Regions from separate parts of the Homo sapiens genome. Here all the other regions are linked to region 1. The links come from fine-mapping of genetic effects on gene expression. A gene starts in region 1. Each other region holds a variant in brackets. All regions are shown on one strand. Distances are between the middles of the regions.

Region 1 (4,120 bases):
GGTGGGGTCAGGGGAACAGGTGGGAGAGGGAAGGAGGAGGGTAGGGAACCACGGTGTCCAGTCCCCTCCAGCAGAGGGGCCAATTGAGGGAGCCTGAGACAGCTGTTTGCTCAGAAAAGTGTCTTAGTCACTAAAGGTTGTGGTGGGGAAAGTCCGTCCTCCCAGTCATGTCCTGGGAATCCGGATGGCGCAGGAAGGCCACCCGGTGACCCTAAGAGTGGCCACCTGTCCTCTCTGAACTGGACTTTCTCTTCTGGCCCTTCCACTCTTCCATGTGTACACATATGCCAAGTAAATTTGCTGTGGCCTCCTGGAACCATCTCCCCCATCCCTCTCACCCCTTAGGAAGAGTTCTGTGTCCCTCCATTACCCATACGCCCGCAGGAGAAACAGGCTTCTATGCCCTATGAAAGTCCTTCCTGAGATCTAACTTCCATCCCTCTAGCTGCAACCACAGTCTCTTTCCTCTTTCTGCTGCCTTTGAGCAGGTAATCTGGAGCTGGAGTTGGGAATGATGAGACACTCCCTGCAGTGAGGGCTCCTCACAAGGTGGGGAAGGGACCTTTGTAGTCCCCCAGCTGGGAAGAGAGCCATGGGATCCAGAGGTGATGCTGAGCTTGAAGATTAGATTTCCCAGAACAGACCCAGTTTCAGATATTCTGGGTGTTAAGGGCAACCTGAATTCAAATTCCATTTCTGCTACAGAACAAGAGCCTCAAAAAGACCCCCTAGAAACACCCCCAGGGCGCTTGCAACTGCTTTCCTGTGCACCTTTCATGTCCTAGACCTTAGTCCCATTTCCCAGGATCTATGATTGAGAAGAACCAGCCAGGCAGTTCCACAGAGGGAGGACAGTGCTGCATATTTTGGGGGTGCCATCTTCAGCTCATAGAGAGAAGATGGGTTAACTCAGCCCAGGCACCACATCCCTAGTGGGGCCTTGGGGTCCAGAAACTGTCCCCAGCTTCCAGTAGAGGATCCGGGCATAACCTGCCCTGGGGCACCCGGCTCTGGCCCTGGGCACACCTGGACCAGGAGCAGCAGAAGAGATTCAGGTCAGACCCCAGAGGGCACCCCCAGCTAGGCAGAGGGGAAAGGATCACTATGGGGTAGGGGTGTGGGCCGGTTGCCAAGCCCAGTTTAGGGACCCCACAGATCCCTGCAGCCCACGGCCCTGCCTCCCTCCCTCCCTCACTGGCGCTCAGCAGATCAATGCTGCCTTTGCTGACAGCTGAGAATCGAGCTCGCCTTCCCGCCCCTTCCCCCGCCCCTCCCGCTCGGCTTCGTCCCTCGAGATCCTCCCGGAGGAACCGGGAAGAGTTTGCTGCGGAAGGCTCACCCTGGGGCAGGGCCTGCGGAGGGAGCGGCTGGTGTGGCCGCAGCTTTCCGTGGAGGAAGAGGGAAAGAGGATCGGGAAACCCAAGTTACCAACCCTGTGCAGGGCCCAGGAGGGCTAAAGGAGAGGGACTGCCCCCTACAGCCAGAGAGATGGAGGTCGGGGACTAAGAAAAACTTTCCAGCTGGAGAGGGAATGCCCTGGGACAAAGTATCCCCTTTTCTGGCTGGGATTCTGTGGGCCTTGGGTAGGGGGTGTGTGTCCCCTCTAAGGCTGGCTTAGAGCTCATCTCCCAACACTCCATCTGCCCAAACCCAGTTCCCTGACCTGGGAGTGGGGCAGGGGAGCAGGCCCCTCCATCGGGGAGGATCCTCTTCTGGGCAGGGTGGCTCTTCCCCCATCACGATGAAGGGAAGCTCAGAGGTGGCAGTTGGTGGGAGAAAGACACACCCAGGCCCACTGTGTTCCACACACCCTGATGCTGCCTAGCAGCCCGTGGGCTCCAGGCCTTTCAGGTAAGAGCAGGACAACCGCCGCTGCCCACCCAGCCACACACAGCACTGGGCACACTTTAAGCACCCGCACCAGGCACACAGTGCTCGACCCCAACGGACACACCTCATCCCCTTCGGACTCCACCTCCACTTTCGCAGCCACCCACACCCGACCCATAACTCACACCTCACTGACTCCATCCCCGCACCTGGTAGACCCACAGCCACCCACCCTGCACACACAAGTAGACGCCGTTCCACCGGTCTACACCTAAACTCCACGGGACACTGCGTCCCTTCCCCTGCCGCCCGCGGCCACAACTCCACATTCCACTTTCCACAAGCACACACGAGGCGTCCCACCCCGGGCTGGCCTTCGGGGCCACACTGCCCCACGCAGCGGTGGACACCACTTGCACGCGTCCGGCTTCCCGGCCCCGCGCGCTGCCCCCGCCACGCGGTTCGGCCCAGGCACCAACTCGGCCGCCCGTGCGCCCTGCCCCGCCGCCTGCTCCGCGCGTTCCCTCCCTCCGCCTCGCCTCGCTTGCTCGCTCGCTCCCTCCCGATTTGGGAAGGCGGCCGCGGGGCGGGCGGGGGAGGGGCGGGGCGGGGGAGGGTGACATGTGAGCGGCGCGCGCCGGTGGCAGGTGGAAAGGCGAGCGGCATGGAGCGCGTAATAAGAGAGTTGGAGTCGGAAAGAGCAGCCCCAGTCGCCGGGGAAGCGGGAGGTCAGTGCGGGCTCCGGCGGCCCCCAGGCTCCGAGCGCCCGCCCGCGGCCCCGGCCCGGCCCCTAGCCCCCGCCGCCCGCGCCCGCCCCGGGTCGCCCCTCTGGCCCCGGGTCCGAGCCATGCGTCTCTGAGCGCCCCGAGCGCGCCCCCGCCCCGGACCGTGCCCGGGCCCCGGCGCCCCCAGCCCGGCGCCGCCCATGGCCGAGGCCCCCCCGCGCCGCCTCGGCCTGGGTCCCCCGCCCGGGGACGCCCCCCGCGCGGAGCTAGTGGCGCTCACGGCCGTGCAGAGCGAACAGGGCGAGGCGGGCGGGGGCGGCTCCCCGCGCCGCCTCGGCCTCCTGGGCAGCCCCCTGCCGCCGGGCGCGCCCCTCCCTGGGCCGGGCTCCGGCTCGGGCTCCGCCTGCGGCCAGCGCTCCTCGGCCGCGCACAAGCGCTACCGCCGCCTGCAGAACTGGGTCTACAACGTGCTGGAGCGGCCCCGCGGCTGGGCCTTCGTCTACCACGTCTTCATGTGAGTTTGCGACCCCGCGCCCTTCCGCGTTTCCCCGCGCAAGCCTGGCCTCCCGGGGCACGGCCGCCCCGCCCTGGCTCCGCCTTCTACCCCCCTGCCTCAGGGCCGACCCTCATCTCTCTCCCCCCAGGCCTAAGCCCGGTTTCTGATCCCCTCGCTGAGCCCGACCCTAAGCCCTGATCTCCCAGGCCTGACCCCTGCTTGACCTCGCTTCTGACCTCCCCGCACCGCAACTGCTTATTTCCATCCTGACCGCCAATCTCTGCTCCTCTGTCCCAGGTACTCCCGACCGCCAGCTGCCTCCCCCAAGTCCGCTTGGCGAAGTCTGGGGCCCCTGGAGTGGGCGCCCTTTTCCTCTTCCCCACCCCTGCCTCCCTGTGTCCCAGACACAAAGAGGAACCCTTGGCTCCCACACGCTTCTGTCACCTGCTCCCCAGCTCTGAGCTATGAAGGGCTCCCCTCAGGGGTGCTCCTCTCCAGGGCGGCCCTCATTCCTACCCCTGCCCAGCTGACTGTGGGTGTGTGGGGGTCCCTGTGGGCCCCCTGGGCCCTGACACTCGCATATGCTGTGTCCGACTTGATCTGTGTCTTCGCTCAGTCTTCCCCTCCACCCTCAACTTCCCAGTGGCAACGGCGGCCGCCCTGCCTGCCCTGCCCTACCCTGCCGGCTTGGCCCAGCTCGCCTGCCTTGTTGGCTGGCAGCACCAGGCCTGGCTCTAGGCACCAGGGGAAAAAGAAAGAGGAGAGGGGTAGGTTTGGAAACACTGACGCTGCTGGGGCCCCCTCCTCCCTCTCACCAGGCTCCTACAACTTTCAAAAACACTGACCCCTCTTGGGTGTGAAGAGTGAATTTTGGCAGCTCAGAGCTCAGTCTTGGGGTACGGCCTGGCCCAGCCAGGAACATGAGAGGCCCCGCAGATATCAGTTGAAGGGCTGGGCCTGACGCTGGGACGCTCAGAGGTGCCCAGAGAGAGACCTCTGGTCCCTGGAAAATGTGTGGCTATTAATCCCTTTTTGCTGCCACCAGAGAGGGCCCTTTGGCGCTGGGGTC
Region 2 (4,120 bases), 38 kb after region 1:
GCGAAGTGGATTCTGAATTAGGTAGGGGCGGGCCTAGGAGTCCGGACCGGATCAGGGGGCGGGGCCGGAGAGGCGGGGCTTGAGGGTTTCCCCTGGATGCTTCTGGGTTTGAAGGGACCACTCGTACCACAAAGTGGGCAGCTGAGGTGGGACTTGAGGGTGGGGCTGGAGCGGGGCTAGGGTGGGCCCCAGGTGGAAGCCTGAAAGTGGGACTTGGGGGACGGGGCAAGGTAGGCCGGGTGCTGGAGTCCTGAGCCTGGAACCTGGAGACTCAAGGCAGGCGGGGTGAGGGTGGGGGTGGGAATGGGGGTCGGGGTAGGGGGAGTGCTGGCGGTTTCGCGAAGGCCGGGGCAGGGTCGCCGTGATGGGAGGAGCTGAGAAAGAAAAGCGAGCCTGGGACTCCGGGAGATGGGGGACCTTTATCCCTTTCCCGTGTGGAAGCCCCCCACATCTCCCAGGCAGGCACAGCGCTCCTCACCGCGCCCCTCCGCCTGCCCCGCAGGAGCTGATCACCGCCTGGTACATCGGGTTCCTGGTGCTCATCTTCGCCTCCTTCCTGGTCTACCTGGCTGAGAAGGACGCCAACTCCGACTTCTCCTCCTACGCCGACTCGCTCTGGTGGGGGACGGTGCGTGAGGGTCTTTGTAGGGCTGCCCTTCTCCCTGGGATCCTCCCTGGGAACTTCCCGAGGTCTGCCCATCGTGACTCCTGACTCAGGGTTGAGCGGGCCTGCCCCTGCCCTCTCACTAGAGCTGGGACCCCCCTGAGACCAGCCCCAATGCTAACCCCCCAACCTGCTCTGGTGGACCTGCCTCTGTCCCCAGCTAGCCCCGCACATCAAGACCTTGTGACTATACCCCTTTCCCCTGACCAGCCCAGGAGAGGGAGAATCCATCTATGACCCTAACCAGCCCCCGTGGGTGACCAGGGGCCCCTTCCCTCATGATCAGGCTCCTACCTGCCTGTACCCCCAACAAGCCGTAGGTGGCCCCCGTGACCAGTCCTGCCTGTAACCTGTTTGTGTCTCCAGATTACATTGACAACCATCGGCTATGGTGACAAGACACCGCACACATGGCTGGGCAGGGTCCTGGCTGCTGGCTTCGCCTTACTGGGCATCTCTTTCTTTGCCCTGCCTGCCGTGAGTTGCCTCCTGCTCAGTTGGTGGGGGAGGCTGAGGGTGGGACCTGCTCACCCCTGTCACACATTTGCCTGGGGAGCCTGGGGTACCTCAGAGGGGCAAGGATGGGGACACCCTTGCAGCCTCTTACTGCCCCACCACTGCCAGCACATTCCCCCAACCATGCCCTATCCCTCTAGGGCATCCTAGGCTCCGGCTTTGCCCTGAAGGTCCAGGAGCAGCACCGGCAGAAGCACTTCGAGAAGCGGAGGATGCCGGCAGCCAACCTCATCCAGGTACAAGATGCCCGGGAAGAAGCCCTAGGAGCAGGGCCGTGTGACTGCACTGGTGTGTCAACCCTGTGTGCTGACCCATGTCCCCAGCCCAACTGTGACACCACTTTGAAGCTCAAAAGGGCTATGTGACTTTCCTGGAGCCACATGCCAAGTCACACACAGAGCCAGGATGCTCACTGACAGTGCCAGAAACTTCCCCCTGCACCAAATGCCTGGTTTAGGGCTAGCCAGAACTGCCCTATTGCCCAACTCCAGCCCAACTTCACAGGGCCTGGGGAGGGGCGGAGCCCAGACAGGAGCTGGGAGGCCTCTGGTGGAGACCCACTGCTGCCCCCATCAGCTGTGCAGCAGTAAGCCTGCCCCACTTCCAGCACCTTCATTCATTCATTCATTCCACAAGCACTCACACAAATGAAGAGAGGATGGTGCAGACAGGGCTTTTAGGAATCTCAACATTTAGCAGGTGGGTGGGCCTGCAAAGTTGAGCTGGGCAAGGAGACAGAAGGAACAGCCAGAGGGGTGGGTAGGAAGCCAGGAGTGTGTGGTCTCAGTTTCCCTCTGTGCCATGGCGTGTTGTGACTGTGTGTGGGCTGAGGCCAGGGCTCTGATTTTCTGTGACCCTGGGACTAGGCCTTGGCTTTTTCTAGTCAGGGGTGTGTGTAAGGGAACTCCTTGCAGGAAATGCTTCAGGGAATACTGGCCCAGTCCACCTCTGCCTGCTCCCTAGCCTGTCACCCTCTGAGCCCCAAACCCAAGCCTCACTCAGCCCTTCCTTATCTCTCCTCCCCAGGGTAGAACCCTCCTCCCTGTCGCTGTTATCTCCAGCCACCAGCTCAGCCTTTTCTTCTTAGCGTCCCTTGGGGCACAATGGCCACTGTCCCCTGGGAGCTGGCCTTCTGAGGGGCATTGTAGGGGCAGGCGGCTGGCACTGTCCATGCCAAGAGACAGCTAGTATTG[T/C]GGTGCCCATAATTAATGAGACAGCTCTGGCAGCTGCTCCCCAGCCCATGCCAGGGGCCTAGGCAAGCAGGAAGTAAAAATATTCCTGTCTTAGGAGGGTGCCTGGCTGGTGAGGTCAGCAGTGGCAGCCCCTTAAGGACAAGAGGCATCCAAAGAAGGGAGGCGTCCAGGGCCCAGCTCTGCCTTGTCCTGCCTAGCAGCCTCCATGCCTCCCTGCTCTCACTGATGGCCACACTCACAGTCCCTCCCTGGCTCTTCCTACGTGGAGGGAGAGGGACAGTCTCTCCTCCTGTCTGACTTTCATCCCTCCTGCTGCAGAGGAAGCTCGGCAAGCCCATGGATGCTGAGGGGTTGGTAGGTAATGCTTTTCCTCCCCTCTCAGTCCTTAGTATTCCCATGGGCAGTGACAGGCAGCTGGGAAAGATGGAGTGGCATTGCTAGTAATAATAATGACATTCTGCAAACATTTGCAAAGCACCCACATGTGCCAGACACTATATTTGCACTGAGAATGCAGCGGTAACAAAGACACAGCTTGCAGTCTAGGGGGAGAGAAAGTTATCAGTCAAATACACAATGAATAGGTATTCATCAAATGTGATAAGGGGAATAACAGGAGTGTTTAACAGAGGAACCTGGCATGAAGTGCCTACTATATACCAGGCACTGAGCTTGGCATTTAATATACAACTGTTCATTTAATCCTCACAACACCCTGGTAGGCAAGTAGTGTTACATGCGTTTTACAGGTGAAGAAACTGAGGTCCTGAAGCTTTACTTAATTTGTCCTCACTAATAAGGGGCAGAGCTGGGATTGGAAACCCATGTCTGCCTGACAACAAAACTCCAGCTCTTAACCTCTATGCTCTATGGCCCCTGGCTCTGACATTGATCTGCTTTGTCCCCTCGGGGAAGTCGTTTCTCCCTAGGCCTTACTTTCTTGGCTGCCCCTGTCAGTGGCTGTGGAATTGGAACTGGCCTCTGGCTCTGGGTAACCCACAACTGGACCAAGGACTGGGTTCTTTCAGGGGAGAGGGCTGGTGGGGACTGAGAGGCCTCACTGATGCCCCATCCCCCACGTCCCCCATACCACCAGGCTGCCTGGCGCCTGTACTCCACCGATATGAGCCGGGCCTACCTGACAGCCACCTGGTACTACTATGACAGTATCCTCCCATCCTTCAGGTAGGTCCTGCTGGGGGTGGGGGTGGGTGGGGGGCTGGCAGCAATGCCCTTTGAGGACAAGTGGCTGAGACTCAACCCTGGAGGGTGGAAAGGGGGTGATGGCTCCCAGGGGAGCACCCTGGGCTGGCTCTGCAGATCCTATGTAATTCAGAGCCTGGAGTGTCCTTTATTCCACTCTGCTATGCCCAGGGAAGAGGTGGATACTGGACATAGGGCATTGGTGAAGCCCTGCCCCATGGCTGAACCCCGGCCCTGGAGTGCTGGCAGTGTGCATGCTCACCCATAGGTGATGCCATCTAGGGCAGTGATACAGCCAGCTCGTCTCCCCTCAGTCCTGAATGGGGGACAGAGTTAGTGGATATTGCAGCTGGTTGGAGAAAGTGTGGGATGGGCAGAAACATGTGTTCCAGACTTAGGTGCATGCTCCTACCCTGAACCCCCATGTAGGAATATGTGCCCACTTTTACTGGGCCAGTCAGCAGCCTCAGGGCCCAGAAGTGGGTCTGCCCCACTGGCCCGGGCCAGGCTAAGACTGCATGGGGGTGGCACCAGGAGAGGGATT
Region 3 (4,120 bases), 29 kb after region 1:
TAAAAATACAAAACTTAGCCGGGCGTGGTGGTAGGCACCTGTAATCCCAGCTACTCGGGAGGCTGAGGCACGAGAATCTCTTGAACCCAGGAGGCGGAGGTTGCAGTGAGCCAACACCACTGCACTCCAGCCTGGGCGACAGAGTGAGACTCCGTCTCAAAAAAAAAAAGAACTCTACAATGACTCCCCATTGCCTTTGGGATCATGTTCACAGTGCCTGAGAATGCTACTCAAGGCCCCTGGGTCTGGCCCTCTCTGGTTTTTCCACTGCCCCCTTCACTTTAGGCCACACCATCCAGAACTGCTGGCCGTTCTGGGCTGCCTCGACGGCCACATTCCCACTGCTTGCACATCCTGCTTCCTCTGCCTGGGGCACCCCGACCCCTGTCCAGTTACCTCCTCCAAGAAGTCTTCACTGATCCCTCCACTTTGGTTGTGCGGAAGGCTTCTTGGGACTCTCCCCGACCCCTTGAGTACACTGTCATGGCCTCGTCCATCCCGTCACCACTGTGTCATGTTCTGTGTTGTTAATTCCTTGGGACCTGGATTATTCATTTCTGGTTTTACAATAAACCTGGCTGAGTGTAGGTGTCTGAAGTGAATATAGCCCAGAGAGGTCAGGTGACAACCTCTTTTCTGCTGTGAGATGCCCTGCCATCTTTCCTACCCCCATCATATCCCCATCTCTCTGGCCTGGCCTCCCAGCAGCTGTCCCTCCAGGGACATGTTGGACATGTCGAGAGAGAGAGCCGTGGACACTGGGCAAACGCCCAGTGGGTATGAAGAGAGAGACCTCAGCTGGATCCAGGGACATCCCCAGAGAATCTGGAGCTGAGCTGATGGCCGATCCTCTCCACCCCACTGCTGGAGAGTTACCAAGCTACAGGGACCTTAACCATCACTGAGTTGTCCCCGACCTTTGTGTGTGTTTCTGACAGGGAAATTGAGGCCCAGAGCATTAGTAGGGCCCGGTGGTCCAGGTGGTCTTGGGCTCAGGTCCTGCGCTTATGACTTTGAACAAGTCATACCTTTCTTTTCTCATTTGAATAACAGCTTTATTGAGATATAATTCACATACAGTAAAATTCCTCCTTTTAAAGTGTTCAGTTCAGAGGATTTTAGTGTATTCACAGAGCTCTGCAGTCACCACAGTATACGCCTCTGAACCGCCCTCTCCTTATCAGGGTGATGATGGTACGGTTCCATGGGGTCACTGTGAGAACTCATTAAGAACATGCATTTAGAGGGCTTGGCACAGTGTCTGGCCAATAGGAAGCCTTTGGCCAGCAGGAGCAGTTATGGTTATTACTTCAGGTCACCACATGAGAGCCACCTCCCCAGCAGAGCTTTCCCCCTCCTGCCCTGTGGCCGCTTCTGGACAGTGACTTGAGGAGGTATAAATGTGGAGAAGGCGGTGATTGCAGTTGTTTAAAAGCCCTGAGCTGGCTAATAATTGAGTCAGCTGCAACTGCTCCCATCACCTAAGCCAGTGATTCTCAAAGTGTGGTCCCCATAACAGCAGCAATAGTATCACCAGGGACCTTTGTAGAAAGGCATATTTTCCACTTCAAACTTACTGAATCAGACACTGTAGGAATAGGTCCCAGAAATCAGTATTTTAACAAGCCCTCCAGGTGACTCTGACACCCACCGTAGTTTGAAAACCACAAATCTAAGCAAACCATTCACTTTTTCATCTCTAATCCTCTTGCTCCCTCCTGAACGAGTGGGATAGTCATGGGATGGGGAGATGGGGGAAATGGAGAGGAAAGGTTGGATAAGCCTTGTGATCAGACCAGCTGGGGAGAGCCAGCCAGGCAACACCCGCCTGTCTCATTCTGCCTCCTGGGCTGGGCAGGGAGAAAGAACATGGGCCACAACTTGCAGGCAGACATGATGGGCAAAGATGTCCTAGAAAGTGGCCGCTAGTCTGGCCTGTCTGCTGGGGAGATTAGAGAGGGCCCAGGCCAGCCAG[C/G]ACCCATGTTTCATCTATATTTGTATAGATGGAGAAACTGAGGTCCCAGAGGGGGCCAGAGAGAATCCTTAGAAAGTCCTTTGTTGGATGAATGAAGCCACACCCTAGTTGTGGCAGGCATGAGACCCCAGCTAAGGGGCTCCTTCACCTTGTCTCCTCTACCCCTGACCTCCAGATACTGATCTCTCTTCTGCTGTCCCTGTGTGAGGACCACCCCCACTCCAGGAAGGCCAAGGCAGCTTGAGGGTCAGCCTGAGCTGGGGTTCTAGCTGCAGCTCTGCCACTGATTCACTGTGTGATCCTGAACAAGTCTATCCCTCCCTGAGCTCTATTTCCTCAGCTGGAAGATATGGATAATTATTCAGGTGCCTGGAACACAGGATCTTTTCTTTTTTTGAGATACAGAGTCTGGCTCTGTCCCCCAAGCTAGAATGCAGTGGCGAGATCACAGCTCACTGTAGCCTCAACCTCCCTGGCTCAAGCGATCTTCCCACCTCAGCCTCCCGAGTAGCTGGGACCACAGATGCACACCCCCATGCCTGGCTAATTTTTGTTTTGATTTTTTTTGTAGAGACAGCATCTCACAATGTTGCCCAGGCTGGTCTTGACCTCCTGGACTCAAGCAATCCTCCCACCTTGGACTCCCAAATGTTGGGATTACAGGCATGAGCCACCGCGCCTCGTCCCAGGATGTTTTCTATTAGTCCAAGTATATCCCTTCAAATGTAATGAGAGTATCAAGGGTATAGAAACTCTTAGCCAGTGGGTTAAAGCAGGGAGAAGTGAAGTTTGGGGGCTTTTTAAGCAGCGTCCGCCAAATGGAGATGGTCAAGGTCAGAGGCGTTACTTTTTAGGAAAGACATGGGGCAGCCAGAGGAGTCAGGGATGGATGTGCTTTGGGGACCTCTTCAGTGGGTACAAACTGGAGGCTTTGGCTTGGTAACATGGTGTTTTGATGTTTGGTTACAGTGAACTCCTGCTATTCATTTACTTAGTCTTTCAATAGTGCTGTGAAATCAATCAAGCAATCGGTCAGTCAGAATAAGGGGCAAGAGAGTGGAGATGAGGCCATTCTTTCAGAGAGGGGATGGCTGGGGAGGCCCCTCCAAAGAAGTGGCATTGGAACAGACCTGGGTGAGGCAGAGGAAACAGTAAAGCAGGTTCAAAGCCTGGAGGTGGAAATATGTTAGGTGTGTTCCAGGACTGGCAAGGAGGCCAGAATAAGTGGGGTGCAGTGAGCCAGCAGGAGAGTGAAGAAGGTCAAGTTTGGAGGCGGGGGTGGAGGCACAGACCTTGCAGGGCCTTGTTGTCAGTGCCGAGGAGTTGGACTTTCCCTCTCTAAGTGCGATGGAAGTCCGACGAGAGTTTTGTGGAGAGCGATGGTTTCCAGCTGTGCATTGTGGGAAGATGACCCTGGCTGCGTTGAAGGGAGTGGTCACATTCAGGCACAGTGGAGGCAGGGAGGCCAGGTAGGTGCCAGATGGTGGCGGCTTGGTTGGGATGGTGCGACCTGGCCTGCCCAGGGATAGATTCTGAAGGTAGAGCCAATGGAATTTGCTCAGAAGGGGATGTGCAGGGGGAGGGAAAGGAAGAATGAAGGAGCCTGAGCCCTGGGGGAGCCGTGGTGCCGTTACTGAGATGGGTAGGCTGGAGGTGAGGAGGACTTGAGGACAAATTGAGAACTGGTGTTTGGAGGTGTTGGGTTTGAGAGGCCACCAGACATCCAAGAAGAGTCATTGAGCAGGCATTTGGACACACGAGCTGGACACCTGGGAGAGGCTGCCACATCCTCACTCCTGCTAAATGGCAGAGGCGACTGTGGTCAAGGGGTGGGGCAGGATCCAAAGTGGGCTTTTCTTGTTTTTGTTTTTGTTTTTGTTTTTGTTTTTGAGACGGAGTCTCACTCTGTCGCCCAGGCTGGAGTGCAGTGGCGCAATCTTGGCTCACTGCAAGCTCTGCCTCCTGGGTTCATGCCATTGTCCTGCCTCAGCCTCCCGAGTAGCTGGGACTACAGGCATCCGCCAGCAAGCCCAGCTGATTTCTTGTATTTTTAATAGAGACAGGGTTTCACCGTGTTAGTCAGGATGGTCTCGATCTCCTGACCTTGTGATCTGCCCACCTCGGCCTCCCAAAGTACTGGGATTA

Direction of the effects. Alleles are on the strand shown, and positions count from the first base shown. SD is a standard deviation of normalised expression in the study named. Not every link is listed here.
For the expression in pancreas of the gene that starts at base 2,449 in region 1, C is the low allele of the variant in region 3 and G is the other (moderate effect, 0.52 SD a copy in GTEx).

Evidence for each region. PIP is the estimated chance that this variant, and not a neighbour inherited with it, causes the effect.
Region 2: its variant is the best candidate, but not a certain one, in a credible set for the expression of KCNQ4 in spinal cord (GTEx, PIP 0.53).
Region 3: its variant is the best candidate, but not a certain one, in a credible set for the expression of KCNQ4 in pancreas (GTEx, PIP 0.85).

Annotation. Positions count from the first base shown.
Region 1 is chr1:40,781,339-40,785,458 of GRCh38, forward strand. KCNQ4 (potassium voltage-gated channel subfamily Q member 4) reads left to right here and starts at 2,449. Exons shown (of 14, transcript NM_004700.4): 1 at 2,449-3,069. The coding sequence starts at 2,756.
Region 2 is chr1:40,818,845-40,822,964 of GRCh38, forward strand. KCNQ4 (potassium voltage-gated channel subfamily Q member 4) reads left to right here. Exons shown (of 14, transcript NM_004700.4): 5 at 503-628; 6 at 1,031-1,141; 7 at 1,321-1,416; 8 at 3,470-3,558. Among named protein-coding and RNA genes, the nearest start is that of KCNQ4, 37 kb to the left of the region's middle. RefSeq lists a silencer at 29-88, enhancers at 1,913-2,414, 2,126-2,270, 2,168-2,312 and cis regulatory regions at 2,189-2,206, 2,231-2,248. The variant T/C (reference allele first, on the strand shown) is at 2,374.
Region 3 is chr1:40,809,902-40,814,021 of GRCh38, forward strand. All of the region lies in intron 1 of KCNQ4 (potassium voltage-gated channel subfamily Q member 4), which reads left to right. Among named protein-coding and RNA genes, the nearest start is that of KCNQ4, 28 kb to the left of the region's middle. RefSeq lists an enhancer at 3,474-3,973. The variant C/G (reference allele first, on the strand shown) is at 1,976.